Linked DNA regions of Homo sapiens: region 1 is linked to region 2. The links come from fine-mapping of genetic effects on gene expression. A gene starts in region 2. The other region holds a variant in brackets. All regions are shown on one strand. Distances are between the middles of the regions.

Region 1 (4,392 bases), 210 kb before region 2:
GTTGGATGAGGCCCACCTACATTGAGAAGGGCATCCGCTTCACTAAGTCTTCTGGTTCAAATGCTAATCCCATCAGAAAACTGTCACAGACACACCCAAATAATGTTTAATCTGAGCACCTACGGTCCACTCAAATTGACTCATAAAATAAGTCATCACATGGGTGAAAGCCTTCCCTGGATGGTGAGTTTTCTGTCTCCCCAACGTGCATGCATGAAGAGCTGTCTGGGTAGATCTGATTCCCATCTTTTACCTACAAACATTTACCCACAACCTTGCCCAAATAACACTGAGCTCCAGGCTGTATGTGTATTATTTCTCATCTTTACAATGGCCCAGAGAGGAGTTCCTGAGTCCTGGAGGGAACTGAGGTAAAAGTGTAACCACTTGATGGGTTCTTCCTGCCCACTGCACGAAATCCATCCACTGAGACCAGGGCATTGCAACAGAGAAAGAGTTTAACTGACGTAAGGCTGGCCCATGCAGGAGAAATGAAGTTATTACTCAAGTATTCGGTGGGCTGGGGGACTAGGGAATGGGTGCTGCTGATTAGCTGGGGAGGAAATCATAAAGGGGTGGAAAACAATCCTTGTGCACTGAGTCCACCTCTGGGTGGAACCACAGGACCAGCTGAGTTATGAGTCAGGGGTCCAGGTGAAGTCAGTCTGAAAAAAATCAGATAAAACCAATCTTAGGTTCTACAATAGTGATGTATCCACAGGAGCAATTGGGGAACGTCACAAATCTTGTGACCTCTGGCCACATGACCCCTGAGCAGTAAGGGATTATAGAAATTATGCCATCATTTAGGCAGAGTTCAGGCCTCTCCCACAATTCTAATCTTGTCATCCTTCATTAGTCTTACAAAGGCGGTTTTTGGTCCCTGAGCAAGGAGGGGGTTAGTTTTATGGAGGGATTTACTTTTACCCTTGCTTTTAAGTTAAACTATAAACTATATTCCTCCTAAAGTTACCTTGGCCCATGCTGCCTTGACCAAGGACAGCTTGGAGGTCAGAAGCAAGATGCAATCAACTAAGTCAGATTTCTCTCACTGTCATAAATTTTGCAAATGCAGTTTCAGAGGGAATGAGTAGGGAAAGGTGGAGGGCCCCTTGTAAGTTATTTGCTGAAGAGCACACAGCTAATGGGTGCAGTTAACACAGGCTTTTGTTGAGACGAAGTCTTGCTCTGTCACCCAGACTGGAGTGCAGTGGTGCGATCTCGGCTCACTGCAACCGCTGCCTCCCGGGTTCAAGCAATTCTCTGCCTCAGCCTCCTGAGTAGTGCCCACCACCACACACAGCTAATTTTTGTATTTTTAGTAAAGATGGGGTTTCATCATCTTGGCAGGCTGGTCTTGAACTCCTGACCTCATGATCCACCCGCCTGGGCCTCCCAAAGTGCTGGGATTACAGGCGTGCGCCAGTGCACCCAGCCTAGGCTTTCCTTTTTTAAAACTCTTTTATTTTATTTACCAATACATATTCATGAAAACAAATCAACCCACACAATAAAGCACCAACAAGAAAGACAAATTAATCACTAAAATTGTAGTACCTCGAAGTACAGTTGACCCTTGAACAATGCAGGGGTTAGGAGCACCAACTCTCATGCAGTCAAAAATCCTCGTATACATTTCGACTCCCCCCAAAACTTTACAGTAATAGCTTGCTGTTGACCAGAGGCCTTACTGATAACATAAATAGCCAATTAACACATATTTCATATGTTATATATGTCATATACTGTATTCTTAAAGTAAAGTAAGCTAGAAAGAAGAAAATATAATTAAGAAAATCATTAAAGAGAAAATATATTTACTATTCACCAAGTGGGGGCGGATCATCATAGAGGTCTTCATCCCTGTCTTCAAGTGGAGTAGGTCGAGGAGGAGGAAGAAGAGGGATTGGTCTCACTGTCCCAGGAATGGCAGAGGTGGAAGAAAATCTGCATATAAGTGGCCCACACAGTTCAAACCTATGTTGTTAAAGGGCCCATTGTGCATCCAGTCCTTGTCTCAAACTGAAGGCTC[G/A]GCCTTGTTCTAATGCTATTGTCTCTAAGATATTCCCTTATATATTTACATCACTGCTCCACTGCAACGCACTGCTAAGATGCTTACACCCTGTCTCCGGGGGCTATGGTTGCCCTAGTTGAGGAGGACTCAGTGGCAGAAGGGACAGGAGTTCACCGACAACTGAAGCCCTGTCCCCGGGGTGCTCTCTTGGGTGCTGGTGACTCCCGGCATCCCCTCTTGGGCATATTTTGAGGTCTAGAGAACCATTTTGCCCAATAGTGGCTGTCAGATAAGGTCTGTTTGGCAGATGCCTGCAGAGCTGTGTGCCTGCCAACAGACATCCCCTGGCTTCCATCCCACCCTTCCCACTATGAGGAGTCAGAGTTGGTGTTTGGCTGACCACAAGGAACCCAGGCAGAAAAGTCCCCTAAGCCTACTGCAGCTCTGTGGTGTGGCTGAGTGGGATGCTCAGCAGGTGTTTGGGGAGAAGGGAAGGTGGACACCCTGAAGGCCTCTGACCCTACCTGAGGCCAAGGATGGGTGAAAAAGTGTAGCATGAATGGCAGCTGGGAGAGCACAGAGCCCAGGGTCTACCCTGACTTCAGGGGGCCTCAGCCAGTCAGACTTTGAATAACACCAGCTACACTGGGGCCCCAATTTCTGTGGCCCCCTCCCATGACAAACAAGGCCCATTGGTCAGGACGAACCAGATCTGATGCAGGAACAAGTGGCCTGCCAATCTCAGGGGCTCTGCCCATCACAGTCACTTAGCACCTCAGTACCTCAGCACTTCTCCACTTGTGGGCTGGTTGGGCTTCCTTGCAGCATGGTGGCCATGCTCGATCAGGGCAGTCAGACTGCTTCCACGGTGGCCCAGGAGTATTCCAGAGAGCCAGCAGGAAGCTGTCACCTCTTCATGACCTGGCCTTGAAAGTTACGTAGCATCACTCCACCGTAACTTTGGTGGACAGGCCACTAAGTCAGGCCCAGAATCAAGGGGACCAACACTGACTCCACTTCTCGGTGGGTGGAGCTGTAAAGCCACCTCACAGGACTGTCATGTTATTTATGAGCTAATATCTGTAAAGTGCTGAGAACCATTCCTCACAGTAATGCAATTTATACAAGTGTTTCTTAAAGAAAGCATACTGCTCATGGATTTGAAAATCATGTCTCAGTAAGCTAACTCCCTGTTTGATATCCAGAACATTCCTGCATCACCCAGTGGGGGAAGCACCAAATCCTGTTGCTCTTTCACTGCCATGCAAGTGCCTGGCCATGGAAGTTGGAGTCAGAATCCTTGTCACACCTTCCAAAAGTTTCACCAGAGGTTCAGAGAATCCAGAGAGGGCTGGATCTCCACCCTTCCAGGGAGAGGGAACAAACAGTGGGCTTCAGCAGCCTGACTCAGGAGCAAATTCCTAGATGACTCTACCTGGAACATGGCACACTGGGGCTCAGGGCTGTGAAACTCAGAGCAAAAACAAGGCCAGTGTTGACTGAGGCTCTCACCCTCCACTGCACGTTCAAACCATCTGGAGACCCTCAGATGGCTCCACACCTGGCCTCTCCCCAGGCAGAGCTCTGAAGTGGGACCTGGGCTTCAGAATTCTGAAACCTCCCAAGCGATTTCAAGACACACCAAAGCCTAAAAGTAACTGAAATGATGGGTTTCCGACGCTCCTGTGCTTGCGAGTCACTTGGGGACCTTGTTAAGATACAGACTCTCACTCAGTGGGGCCGGCTGAAATTCTGCATTGCTAGCAATCTCCTGGCAATGTTCATGCCTCTGGTCTGTGGACCACGCTTTGAGTAGCAGAAAAATAGAGCAGCATTTCTTAGTCTTGTCTTGTCTTTTTAACTCTATGCTTCCCACTGATTAATGTACAAATCCCATGCCTTCTTTTAATATTATTTGAAAACTGCACAGTAAATTAAATATTGCAACTAAAACCAAGTGTTAATTTGAGGGGACAAAATTCTGCATTGTTTGCACAACTCACTTCTGGGCCTTCCCATCCCACCAACACCTACAATCTGGGAAAACACCCTGTTGCAAAAACAACTGGAGGTGGCACCCATCCGGCTTCACCCAGGTTTCCACCGGCTCCTTCACCCGGCACCTAAAGGACTCACCACCCACCCCCTATTGGGGTCTTGCTTCACCCATCAACAAGCAAGATAATGTCAGGTGGCCTCGAAGGGCCTTTCCAATATCACTAGGGACTTTTGATCTTAAATCATCTTTTAATCTTTTCCATCCCATGGATCCTCGGCCTCCTCTGTGACTTCCAGGAAAGAAGCAGGCCTCCAAAAGCATTTTCTACCACAGGCACTTGTGCCTAGGGACTTTCCTGACAAGGACATGAACAGGCACA
Region 2 (4,392 bases):
ACCTCATGTTTTTCTTTGCACTGCTTATTGCTGGTTCAACAGTAAAGCAAAGCAAAGCCTAGGTAATGTTAGCCAAGCCTGAGTCGTCATTCTTGCCAATTCTCAAAGGAGGCGGGGTCAACTTTAAGAAACCATGATGTATGTCCTATCTCATCAGGAAATCAAGGCTAAAGAAAAAAAAAAAAAGAAACCATGATACCCAAAAAAATTTTCGTTTATTATCTTTTATTATCTGATATTCTCTCTTCTGTCCATTCAGATCCTAACTTAAAGTCTGTCCAGACATTCTGCACAAATATTCCTTTAATTGCATTCAAGTCATAACGACCAAAAAAATAGAATATGGTGCATATTAGTAGCTGTACTTGCAATCCCTTTATATCTAACATATTGTTGGTACACTTAACGGAAGTGAAGTCCCGGCATGACTAAGCTTACCCAAAAGATGATGGCATTCAGGCTCTAATCACTCCAGTGCTAGTCTATGCTTCCAGCTGAATTTCTTACTATTCTGCTTATGCCACACTTGCCTTATGTTACGTCCCAAATACACCACACATGTTCACATCTCCATGCCTTTGACCATGTTCTTGTCTCTGTCTGGAATAATAAGTAAGGAATAAAGTCATTCATCACACTCCTGAAGCACTGCTACGTGCTAGTGGCAATTTACATTAACAATCTCATCTCATCTTCATAACAAACCTATAAAGTTGGTATTGTTTTTCCTGTTTTACACGTGAGATAAGTCTGCCCAAGAACCCTCACAAATGGCAAAATCCACTGCCTATTAAAGAATGCCTTGGAACCCCTTTCAAATGGCGAAACCCTGCAGGTATTACAGCCCTTTCCTCTTACCATGCCTTGAAAGTTCACACAGCCTACTAATAACCAGGATCTGCTTCACTACACTAAAACCAATCACGACTTACACGCTTTTCACTTCTGCTTAACAGATTATAGGTGCTCAACAAATGCATGTCAAAATTAAAACACTGGTCCTCTGGCTTAACCCGGAGGTTAAGGGTGGAAACTGCTATTCCACCCTTCACGACCCTTTTAGCTTTTCCCTGCACTGCCAGTGAAAGGAACTGAGCTGTAACAGTATTCCCTAGGATTGTCAGCCTCCTTCAAAGCCTTCAAAGCTCTGTATTGTATTGCTAATGATGTCTCCTCCCGTAGAAGGTAGCTCAAGGGCAAGATCCATACCATCCACATTCTTATCGCCAGAGCTGAGGAAAATAAAAAGTGCTCAAAATTGTTTAAATGAAGTGGAACAGTCCCTCAAGACTAACTTTCTAAGAGAAAATGAACAAGAGGAAAAATTGTTCCAGCTGAGCAGCTTCAAATTTAAGATTCTCCGTAATAATAAAAGGCAGTTTCACCGCAGCTTTTACAACTCCACCACTAATAGCTGAGTTTACAGAAAGCCATTACACAGCAACAATAAAGCCTGGTAGCAAGGATTAAATCCCCAGGGTATATATTGACCTTGGCTTGTCTGGAGCGGAGGGCGTAAGCTGCACTTCTGTTTGCCGCGCTGAATGCGGTCACTTTACAGGTAAGCTGCTCGGGGGTACACGTTTAGGTTATTAAAAGCAAGAAATAGGTGCACAAGGAAGCGGCCACGCTGGGTGAGTAGGGAGGTGAGAAAGGGGAGGGACCCAGGTTCGGTGCGCCTGCCTGACCTCGACCCCGCGTCCTGCCGGCGGACGCTGCACCTTATGCCCGTCCTGAGAGCGAGCGGCCGCCCGCTGCCCCGCGCCTGCCCAGCGTTCGCACCTCACCTCGGTTCTCCTCCTCCAGGTGCCGCACCCGCAGCTCGTCCTCCGTCTTCATCTCAGAGCTGTAGCCCCTTTTCGGGGCGGGACCCCCGGCCGCAGGTACCCAGCCCTGGGCCCAGATCGCCGGGCCCGCTCGCCGGCCTGCCAACGAGCCGGGCAGCCTCAACCCCGGGCAGAGCCACGCACTGCAAGCGGCCACCAGGCGGGCGCCGCCAGCATGCAGGGATCCCAAGGCCCCAGGTGCCGCCGCCACCGCGGCCGCCATGTTGTCTGTTTACGGCGTGGACCTGCGACGGCCGCTCCGCCCCCGCCCGGCGCCGACCTGCCGCGCGCACGCGCACGGCGTCCGGACCCGCCGCCTCGCTCCGGCTTGGCCCCGCCCTCCGGAGCCGTGTTCCCGCCCCTCACTGCCCCGCCGAAGCCCGGTGACCCGAGGCCTTGCCCCATTCTCCAAGCGAGATTGGATGGTTTGTCCAATACAAAAGGAAAGAAAGTAGTTTTCCAAGGTTATGGAATAATTCAGGGAAGACTTTTCTATAAGAACCACCCGGAGGGAATTATCTCCCCGTACTCCCTGGACCATGCCCTGCGGTCCTGTGTTAAGTAAGCTGCAAAAGTGAACAAAAAAGTTTTGTCTCCTCAAGTTGGCTGAAAGTGTGGCAGCCCATCGTTGGTCACTGCCTTACTTATGGATCTCAGGTTGTTGGTTTAGCGTCCCTGATAAGCATAAATGATGTTTACTACGTGGCGTTCAGGAAAAGGATGAGAACAGCAAACAGGCAAAGGAGTTCTTTCTCCAGCCCACCCACTCGTACCGATGTCCCATGGCCCTTCCTGGACGGAAAGAGTCTTACAGGGGTTCAAACAAGCCATACGCTGAGATGGGATTTAGAGTATGTAGCTCTTCCAGAAACTCGGGATATCAATTTAGTGTGTAGGTACTCATCAAAGCACGTTGCAGTATAATTAATGCTACCTAGCTTTTATCAGATCTCTAATGGGAAAGCTTGCATTTAAGAATACTGGGCAGGGGGCGGTGGCTCACGCCTGTAATCCAAGCACTTTGGGAGGCCGAGGCAGGTGGATCACCTGAGGTCAGGAGTTTGAGACCAGCCGGGCCAACGTGGTGAAACCCTGTCTCTACTAAAAATACAAAATTAGCCAGGTGTGGCGGCACACGCCTGTAATCCCAGCTACTCGGGAGGCTGAGACAGGAGAATTGCTTGAACCCGGGAGGCGGAGGTTGCCCTGAGCTGAGACTGCACCATTGCACTCCAGTCCAGGCAACAAGAGTGAAACTCTGTCTCAAAAAAAAAAAAAAAAAAAAAAAAGAATACTGTTTGAAAAGTGTGCTGCTATGAGCATACGTCTAGTGCCACAGAAATTTCTTGTATTTTTTAGTCCTAAGCAAAACATCCTTCATTATGTCCTCAACTTTTATCCAATGTAGAAACAAAAAGTAGACTGAATTCCATTACTGCATCTGCTGTAAAATGATGTTGAAGGCACTTTTATTTTTATTTTTATTTTTTATTTTTTGACAGGTTCTGGCTCTGTCGGCCAGGCTGGAGTGCAGTGGTGTGATCGCCTCTCGCTGCAACCTCTGCATCTCAGGCTCAAATGATCCTCCCACCTCAGCCTCCTGAGTAGCTGGGATCACAGGCACACACCACCACACCTGGGTAATTTTTGTATTTTTAGTAGAGATGGGTGTTTCTATGTTGGCCAGGCTGGTCTTGAACACCTGACATCAAGTGATCCACCCAACTTGACCTCCCAGAATGCTGGGATTACAGGTGTGAGCCACCATGCACAGCCCACTTTTTATTCTATCTTTTGTAAAGTTCCATGCAGGAAAATTTTCCTGAAGTTTACTACAAGGAAAACTTTGCTTCCTTTGTATCTTTCCTCTTTTCTGATAATGATGTACATGTTGACTGCTGGGTGTTGTGATTTTTATTGTTATGGTTTCTTTCTAATTTGGTCTTGTGGTCACCAGAGGGAGGGTAAATCTGGAGGTGACAGGGAGTTCAGCCAGTGGAAGGGGGTCAAGGAAGGGGCACTTGTGGAGCTAAAGCCTCTGTTGGGGTCCAGCGTGTTACCCAAGCAGTTTCCCATGGAAGTTCTAATTGGTGAGTTTAGAACAAGCAGGCACAAGTTCCATGGAGTCACCCTGTCACTGTGAGGTGGTCACTGGAGCCCATCTACACAGTCCATGTGGGTTATGGAGGTCAACAGGTGAGTCAAGCAGGCTGCATTTACCTGTCCCATAGGGAGATGGTCACCAGGAAGCAGTTGCATTAAGCAGATATCTGGATGGATCACATTGAAGAACTGGGAGGAAGCAGAGAACTGGAAACTGTATCAAAGGTGATTGAGCCCTGCTTCTCATATGAGAAAGTTAAACATATTCAAAATGGATACCAAGGCAAAATAAAATTATGAGAATTACTGTACTAGAGATGGCAGCGGCTGCTCCAGACGGCCTACTGCTGCAGCAGGGAGGCATGGCCAGGGCTGCACGCTCTCTGGCGGGAGCCAGGGACAAGCGGGAGACCCACCCCTTCTGAGTTGGGGTGGGAACTCCCTGGTTGCCTCTGCAGCACAG

Evidence for each region. PIP is the estimated chance that this variant, and not a neighbour inherited with it, causes the effect.
Region 1: its variant is the best candidate, but not a certain one, in a credible set for the expression of AUH in whole blood (GTEx, PIP 0.54).

Annotation. Positions count from the first base shown.
Region 1 is chr9:91,152,542-91,156,933 of GRCh38, forward strand. All of the region lies in intron 1 of LINC02937 (long intergenic non-protein coding RNA 2937), which reads right to left. All of the region lies in intron 2 of LINC00484 (long intergenic non-protein coding RNA 484), which reads left to right. Among named protein-coding and RNA genes, the nearest start is that of LINC02937, 8.5 kb to the right of the region's middle. The variant G/A (reference allele first, on the strand shown) is at 2,033.
Region 2 is chr9:91,359,841-91,364,232 of GRCh38, forward strand. It overlaps AUH (AU RNA binding methylglutaconyl-CoA hydratase), which reads right to left and starts at 2,078. Exons shown (of 10, transcript NM_001698.3): 1 at 1,788-2,078. The coding sequence starts at 2,049. RefSeq lists a silencer at 1,809-2,248.